Linked DNA regions of Homo sapiens: region 2 is reported to be linked to region 1. Evidence: microRNA targets listed by miRTarBase, many of them from high-throughput screens and not tested one by one. Region 1 holds a microRNA gene; the other region holds the end of a gene's coding sequence.

Region 1 (4,386 bases):
TTGGATCCACTGGAAAGAGCTGTGGGTGGGCAGGGAGCTAGGTTGTCTGGCTTTTTTAGAAGGAGGAGGTAAATTTGAGGTCAGAGGGGGATTTGTCAGCCCCAGCTGTGGAGTTCTCAAGCAGATCCTCTCAGACATCAATGAGCACACGAGCTGCCTGGAAATCTGATTCTGACTGGGTCTGAGCTGGATCCCAAGATTCTGCATTTCCAAGGCTCTCCCAGGGGATGCTGATGCTGCGGGTCCTTGGACCACACTCGGAGGAGCCACTCACACTGGAGGACACACTCAACATAAGGCCACACTCGCTGGCATGCCTGGAGGATGGGGAGGGGAGGGCTTCCATACGGCTCCCACCTGGACCCCACTGCCCCCGCCTCACCGACCCACCCCAAGCACACGCAGTCTCAATTCCAATGTGTGCATCTGTTCAGCAACCAAAATAGGATTCTCCAGGCTGTGCCTCCCAGGGGATCCTAGGAATTTCCTGGAACAGAGATGGGGTTTTCAGGATGGCCCTGGTCTCCAGTCCCCTCCTGACAATCCTACTCCGGGAGGTTCATCTGGATCCCCCTCCAGCCTCCTGGAAGTCTGGCTGCGCATCAATTGCCTGGCACATAGATGACAGCCATTAAATGCTTTTCGAATTAATGAAAAAAATCTATCAGTCTATATTTGTGTATTTCGTAGCTCCAGGGGACAATCAAAAGAAAATAAAATCCCCCAGCTGAAATAACTACATTGGTTTATGGCCTATTTATTCATTTATCTGCCCTTGTGGAAGCTAAGAAGTTCCTATTTTTAGCACCTCCCATGCTCAGACATGGGTTATTTTTTGTCTTCAAACTCTCCTAAAGAGTTGACATGTTGGCTGGGCACAGTGGCTCATGCCTGTAATCCCAGCACTTTGGGAGGTCGAGGCAGGCGGATCACCTGAGGTTGGGGGTTCAAGACCATCCTGACCAACATGGAGAAACCCCGTCTCTGCTAAAAAGACAAAATTAGCCAGGCGTGGTGGCGCATGCCTGTAATCTCAGCTACTTGGGAGGCTGAGGCAGGAAAATTGCTTGAATTCAGGAGGCAGAGGTTGCGTGAGCCGAGATCGTGCCATTGCACTCCAGCCTGGACAACAAGAGAAACTCCGTCTCAGAAAAAAAAAAGAGTTGACATGTCCCAGCCTATTACCGCAAAGCCGTGCCGTGCATTTAGTGAGAGGAGACAGTAGGGACAGGAGCTCAGGCAAGAGGCCTCCTCTCCCACAGTGCCCAGGAAATAGTCACAAGGTGAGACGCCCGAAGCAGCTGCCAGCCGAGTCCCAGCCTGGCGTCCTGTGCTCTCCCTCGGGTTTCCAGGGAAGCAGGTGTGGCAGCCCCACCTCTGCCCACCCTGTTCTCACTCCACTTCCAGAGAGGAGGGTGCGGGTGTGAACTCTGCAGCCCGTGTTTGCAACTCTGCCAAGTAGGCGTGACCAAATGGCAATTTAAAAGCCACTCACCTAAAGATGTGGGGTGTCTGAGCCAAGCCTGAGCGCCCATTCTAATCCTGTAGAAATATTTGAAAGAGAATAGTCATCACATCTGGGGGGCTGGGCTCAAGATTTTTCTAGCACTGACTCACTCACAGAACTTGGGCAAGTCTTTACATTCTCCAGGTCTCAATTTCTGCATGGAAGCATGGAGACAGTCATTGTAGACCAGTGTCACTTTCCCTTATATGCTGGGGACTTGAAAGAACTATTACACACTCCAAAGTGACTAATTTATAGCTTAATCACTTGTAACATCTTTCTAACCTACTCACACACGTTACCATAATTATAGCAGCCACCTCAAAAACAAGGACACCAGGATAATCATGAAAACACTAAAAACAGAGTGCTAAAATATAGCTGATTTCGAAGGCATTAATCTTCCTAATCCTTCTGTGTGGACAAGAGGCTGCAAATATTGGTGAAAACATCATCCTCATCATCATCACATATCTTTACAACACCCTATATATTCTTTCCAAAATTGGCCATGCCATTTTGCCATCTTTTCCCGCTCCTGAGATAAGTAGAAAACTATTCTTATTTTCTCCAATTAGCACTTCTTTTAGGCATTGGAAACCTAGCAAGATTTGGGGAGGAAGATTTACTGGCTTGAAGAGTGTTTCCCACCCCAAAATTCATGTCCACCCAGAACCTCAGAATGTGGCCCTATTTGGAAACAGGGCTGTTGCAGATGTCATTAAGATGAGATCATACCACAGTAGGGTGAGCTCTAAATCCAACGACTGCTGCCCTTTACGAGAGGAGAGGATGCACAGTCGTACGCACAGAGAAGACCATGTGAAGAGGGAGGCAGAGATTGGAGTAATGCACCCACACGCCAAGGAATGCCAGGGATTGTCAGCATCACCAGAAGCTGGCAGAAGCAGGAAGGACCCCCACCCCCAGCCAGAGCCTTAGAAGGAAGTGTGGCCCTGCCAATCAAGTCCGGGAAGCTAGAAGTCCAAAAATTTCTAGCCTCCAGGACTGTGAGAGAATAAATCTCTGTTGCGGAAGCCCCTGAGTTTGTGATACTTTGTCGGGGCAGCCCCAGGAAGCTAATACAGAAAGGGTACTGGGAAACTGGGAGCCAGAGGCTCAGAAGGGAGCTCACAGAGGCTGCAGGAACTCAGCTACCACTCAAGTATCTGGAGAGGGCTCAAGGTTTCTCTGGTTGCACCTTGATCCATCCCAGTAGACACACAGTGCAGGGCCCACCACGTGCAGTCATGAAGCCGGGAGGACCCCGGGTCTCTGTCCACTCCCATCTGACCAGCCAGAACCCACCATCTCTGGCTCTACCCATGGAAGGAGGGCACCACCTGACCAAAGCAGAGGGAATGCGGGATGAGAAGGGGCAGCAACGAGTGTGCCTGATGTGCTCGCTGCTGATTAAAGCTTCCTTCAACAGAGAGTTTTATCCTGGAGGATTTTGAATAGTTTTTTTTCTTTTTTTAGACAGAATCTCACTCTGTCACCAAGGCTGGAGTGCAGTAGTGTGATCTTTGCTCACTGCAACCTCTGCCTCCCGGGCTCAAGTGATTCTCCTGTCTCAGCCTCCCAAGTAGCTGGGATTATAGGTGAACGCCACCATACCCAGCTAATTTTTGTATTTTTAGTAGAGATGAGATTTCACCATGTTGCCCAGGCTGGTCTTGAACTCCTGACCTCAAATGATCCGATTGCCTTGGCCTCCCAAAGTGCTGGAATTACAGACATGAGCCACTGTGCCTGGCCTTATCCCAGAGGATTTTCCAGAATATTAAGCATACATGTCCTCTTCCTGCCATCCTCACGGAGCATCTGCCCTCCTGTCATCTTGCTCCTAAGTTTCCCGCCCTTTTCCTCAGGTCCTGAGAGAGTCTTGATGGCTGACCCAAATCCTTCCTTCCTGTCCATCAACAGATGTCAGCTCAGTTCCTGGCTGGCTGCGTGTCCTTGTTCCACCTGTAGTAGGACCGCTTTGCTTTCTTCATCTATACAGTGTGAATAACGGTAGCAGGAGCTACCTATAGATGAAGGTAGCAAGTCTGTGGACTAGCAAGTCCGTGGACCAGGACATGGAGCGCCCCACACAGTGCCCAGGTCAGTGGCCCTCGGTAAATGTGGGTTAACCTCTTTAACATGTTGAAAAAGGTCAAGGTTAACTGCATAGACCCGGGGTCAGCAAACAATGGCCCACAAGGTAAAAATGGTTTTTACACTTGTAAGTAGTTGAAAAAGTTCAAAAAGAAAAATATTTTGTGATGTGGAATTCTATGAACTTAATTTTAGTGTTCATTAATAAAGTTTTATTGGAACACGGCCACACTCACTCATTTTCATATTGTCTATGGCTGCTCTCATGCTACACAGCAGAGCTGAGCAGTTGCAGCAGAGACTGCATGTCTGCAAAGCCCAAAAGATTTACTATATGATGCACTACAGAAAAGGGTTGCAGGTCTCTGATAGACTCGAGCCAAATGATCTAACTTCAACTCCCAGATCCAAGACTTACTAGCTGTTTGACTTTACACAAATTATCTGCCTCCATTTCGTCTCTTTAAAATGGACATGATAGTCCTCATTTTAACATATTTTTGTGAGAATTAGATACATTATTATTTTTAAGGTCTTAGTGCCAGCATATAAAAATACAATTGATGGGTTCGATTATTTTCATGTCTTTGTTTTAATGCTCATTCTAACTCTTTAAATATCACCGTCCTTCTACACCAGAGTAAAATGTAAAAAAATTCTCAAGCCTTCTTTCCACTTGAAACACAAGAAAAGTTCTTTAAAACTGACTTATCATTTTCTTCTTTTCATCGTTGTTCCACATGCAAACAGATCCAGAAACCTTAGCTCAGACTTCTCAA
Region 2 (4,386 bases), not on the chromosome of region 1:
CCCATCGTGTTTCACTGGCTCAAAGAGACTTTGTTGAAAACAATTATACTATTCTCATTGGACAATAAATTTTACAGCAGGGAGGGGGAATTCCAGAGAGTGCAGGGTAGAAAAAAAGAGTCTCAAACTCTCCATACTTCAACCTCTGGGAAAAAACATTTTCTAACTGCCAAGGGAAATACCACTCAGAATACACTCCCTCAGATGGGTGGACTTACCCAGAAAACACAAGCAGCTTCTTTCTTCTTTTTTTGAGACAGGGTCTTGCTTTGTCACCCAGGATGAAGTACAGGGGTGAGATCATGGCTCACTCCAGCCTTGACCTCCAAGCAATCCTTCTGCCTCAGCCTCCCGAGCAGCTGAGACTATAGGCACGCACCACCACGCCTGGCTCATTTTTTAATTTTTTGTAGAGACAGGGTCTCACTATGTTGCCCAGGCTGGTCTTGAACTCCTGCACTCAAGCGATCAGCCGGCCTCAGCCTCCCAAAGTGTTGGGATTATAGGCATGAGCCACCACGCCCCGCCCACACAAGCAGTTTCTAAAAGAGAAAGACTGCACACCCAACTCAGAGGGCAATAATTCTTGACACCTACTTTTCTCTGGGTGCAATAACGAAAAACAGGGATAGGCGACCTCAGGAAGAAAACGAGTCTTTGGATGCGAAGCATTAAGTAATCAGAATGACCACTGACATTAATGGAGCGCTTTCTGTGTTCTGGGAGCTGTGCTGAAAGCTTTACAGCTACTCCCTCATTTCGTCCCACTACAACCTATTGAGGTAGGCACTGCTATCCTCACTTTACAGATGAGGAAACTGAGGCACAGAGAGGTTAAGTCACCTGGTCAAGGTTACACAGCTAGTGAAAGGAAGGCTGGGGTTTGAGTCCTGGCCTAAATTCAAGGCCCAGGTGCCCAAACACCAACAGTAATGCTGCTTGTGGGTTGCTTCTGTCCTGGTCACAATGGATTAATGAACTAATGATGCAAGAAGCCCAAGCCAAGGCACTTCCAGCCTTTGTGGCTCAGGGGAAATTCAAAAGCCAAAAGCTTGGCAATCCCTTCCTTGGATTATTTTTAATTCCAGTCCTCCCGAAGGCAAGAAGAATGACCTTGATAATGCTTCCACGTGGGTCCCCGAGACCTCCACATGGGAGGAGAGCCGGCCGTAGCAGATGCCACCATGGATACCTGCTGGTTCTGTGGTCCAGCTTCTCTTGTCCATTGGGGGAATGGCCCTCCCCAATCCTGCTGCGGCTTCTGCAGGGAATGTCAATCACGGGACCCTAGTTCCTTGCCAGTGTGGCCCACAGGAATAAGCATGTGACTCGAGCTGGGCCAATCAGAGCCTTCCATGAGATTTGAGATGGAAAAGCATCTCTTAGAGTGTGAATCCTGAAATTATAGGCTTGGGGCTGCTGGCAGCCATCTTTCCCGCCAGGTGGAAGAAAGAATGAGGTCAGCATGCAAAGAGATGCAGAGTCAAGAGGCCTGGGTGCAGTTGAGAGGCCTGAGGACATTAAGCTCCTGGATCCAGCCATATCTGAAGCAGCACCCACCTTCAGCCATCCCTAGTACAGGACCCAGGGAATTTGCTTTGTTGCTTAAGCCAGTTTGGGCTGGTTTTCCCTAGGGAGAGAGCACTCTCAAGAGCAGAACTGAAAGGGCCTGAGGTTCCTCACCCCCACTGTTAAGGGTGGACAGCTGATAGCAGACTCCCCTCCCCCCACCCGCCTCTGGAACAGGCAGTTCCAGCTTCCTTCCGTAAAAGGCTTCTGTGTCCTTCTCTGGGGCTAGACAATAAATGTATAAAGACTGCCAGGGCAGCTTATCCCAGCATACTTGTAGGATAACACCTAGTTTTTAAGAGAAAAGCTAGAAATTCACTTAAAGATAGTTGAAAATATTGCAAGTTGCTCTCAGCAATAAATGCCTGGTGATATGGGAGCAATTAGTTTTGAGAACGTCTCCTTCCAATCAGTCGGTCTCTTATGCACACATGTGCACACACACCTTGACGCAGAGTGCAAAGCAATCTATTTTGTTCAGATACCTGAGAAGCGGACAGAGAGCCAACAGGAAGGTGGGCAAGGCTCTCTCCCAGCAGGAAGAAGGATGTATCTGAAAAGATGACACTTTCTCTCTTCCTTGGGTTTGGGGTTGAGGCTGGCGTAGATATAAGTTTCCTGGCCCTGCATTGCTGAGCCTGCATAAAGATGATTCTTGTGGCCACAAAACCACCCCTTGGCTCAGTTACTGCAGCAGAGATGAGCCCCAACTCTAAGCAAGGCCAGGAGACAAGGGTACCAGCCACTGCTGACAGAGCCATGTCAGTGAGACTCCTGCCACGCAGGTCATGAGGATGTGTAATGTGGGCTGGGCGCAAGTCAATGGGGTAGGGACTGGCGTGGCCACATCCAGGGGTGCAGAGGTGTTGTCTTCATGCAACAATAGTGACCCCATTCTGCTGGTGCTCCCAAATGCCTAAGGGAAGCCAGAAATCCTGATTTCGATGCGAAATGCCTCAATTTTTAAACCATTCTAAAGGCAAAAAAGCAACACTAAAAGCAGGCCAGATCAGGCTTCAAGTTGGTGACCCCTGACTGGCTGCCTTTTGGGGAGTCCAGGAAAGGAAAGGAGAAATGTCCTCAGGCCCCAAGGAGACCCAAGACGCTCCTGTGTAGTAACTAGGGGAACTCATGTCAATATTGAACCTAGTTCCAGAGTCATATCTGCCCCAGGGCAAACACAGCAGCCTCCACTCGCGGGGGGAATCGAGACTCCATGTTGAGACCCTGGATCTAGCCTTACCTGAAGCAAGCCCTCCTGGACTGGCCAGTTCTATGCACCCATGAATGATCATGCTTTTGTGTTGAAGCACCTGGGCATGGGTCTCTGTGGCTTACAACCAAAAACAGTCATAATTAAACAGTTCCCTAGGAGAGAAAGGCATCTCCAGTGGGGTATACAGACAGCCTCAGTCACCCCATCACTGCCTGGAACTTAGCAGAAACCCAGGGCTCTCCCACCCTCTCCAATCAGGGATGGTCAGGCTTAGGCCATGCTGGCCAAGTGCAGGGAACATGGATTTTCACTTCAGGATGTGCTGTTCCCCACAAAGAGCAGCGCCTGTAACTCACTTAACTGCTCACCAAGCACATCTTGATACTGCATAACAGAACGTTATGCAATCAGATGCCAAGGTAAACACCCTTCATTTCTGCCTCCCCAGCATCCTTCCTCCTTCTTCTTAGGGGGGACCCCAGTACTCCTCGAGGCACCCACTAGTGCTTTTGAGAGCAGGTGGTTGGTTCCAGAGATGTGCATGTGATCCAGGCTGGCCAATCACTGCACCTCACTGCAACCCTGGATCACGGTGATTGGTCCAGATTGGGCATGACCCTGCTGGCCAATCAGCATTCTCCAGTGTGCCTGGCAACTGTGATTGGTTCAGGAATTGACCTGGCAATCGCTCCCCCTTCCAGGCTAAGACTCAGCTCTGGGAAGTGGGCTGGAGCCTTTGGGAGGAAGAGGCTCTCTTATGCAGGCAAGCTGCAGGGAGGAGAAGGGCACCTGATAGTGATGGTCCCCTGCATGGCGAAAGCAGAGCAAGAGGTGGACAGAGAGGAGATGGGCCTGGCTGACGTCGCTAAGCCCGGATGTCCCAAAGGTGTGGTATGGTAGACACCTTGGCCTTGGCTTGGTCTTCCTTACACGAAGCCGGAAGGAGATGGTTCTGTCCTTGCAATTTCAAGAGCCCTGACACCACCCACAGGCCAGTTCTGGATCCTTGCCATCCGCTCCAGACACCCCAACTTGGGCAGCATCTAGGCCTGGGGCTCCAGCCCACATGGTCCCAGGCCCTGCAGTTAGCTGGCTTCTCATTCTGGACATTTCTGGACACTGGAGGCGAGCGGGCGGCCCTGAAACACTGGGCCCGGCTATCTGGAGACCAGGGAGCTGCTATGAGACTGGCCGGAGGAGGAGGACGAGGTGGCGGCGCTGAGCTGGGAGAAGCCGCTGGTGCAGGATTCCAGGCTGGACATGGAGCCCCTGGGGAGGAAGGGCGTGGCACACGTTACCCTCTCACAGTGACAAGGCCCTTGGGCTGACACACAGCAGTGGAAAAGCTGTTGATGCTGCAAATCAGGCCCCAGGGCCCCAGGCCGATGCAAAGGGAAAAGCAAGTGACGCCATGAAGAGAAAAGCACTACCGAATTCCCCACACTCCCATCTCCCCAGATGGAGCCCAGCCTGCCACAGACCCATCAGGGGCTCCCCTGGCCTGAGGCCCTTGCATGGCCCTAAGGCCGCCACAGCCCAGGGAGTCCCCGGCCCTGTCTCCAGTCTCACTCCCTCCTTACTCTTTGCACTCAAATTCCATG

What was found. The annotated mature microRNA hsa-miR-6131 reads GGCUGGUCAGAUGGGAGUG and lies in region 1 at 2,788-2,806, opposite strand. An mRNA with a match to its seed (bases 2 to 7 or 8) in the 3' UTR can be bound and repressed. Matches are read on the target gene's strand: a 7mer-m8 pairs with bases 2 to 8, a 7mer-A1 pairs with bases 2 to 7 and ends in A, and an 8mer does both.
Region 2: miRTarBase lists SEC14L5 as a target of hsa-miR-6131. Seed matches in the 3' UTR shown: 7mer-A1 at 2,467-2,473, 7mer-A1 at 1,194-1,200 and 7mer-m8 at 440-446.

The regions. Positions count from the first base shown.
Region 1 is chr5:10,476,527-10,480,912 of GRCh38, reverse strand. It overlaps MIR6131 (microRNA 6131), which reads right to left and starts at 2,876; the gene lies at 2,768-2,876. It also overlaps a transcript of ROPN1L not described here.
Region 2 is chr16:5,014,527-5,018,912 of GRCh38, reverse strand. It overlaps SEC14L5 (SEC14 like lipid binding 5), which reads right to left. Exons shown (of 16, transcript NM_014692.2): 16 at 1-4,054. The coding sequence ends at 3,943. Among named protein-coding and RNA genes, the nearest start is that of NAGPA-AS1, 17 kb to the left of the region's middle.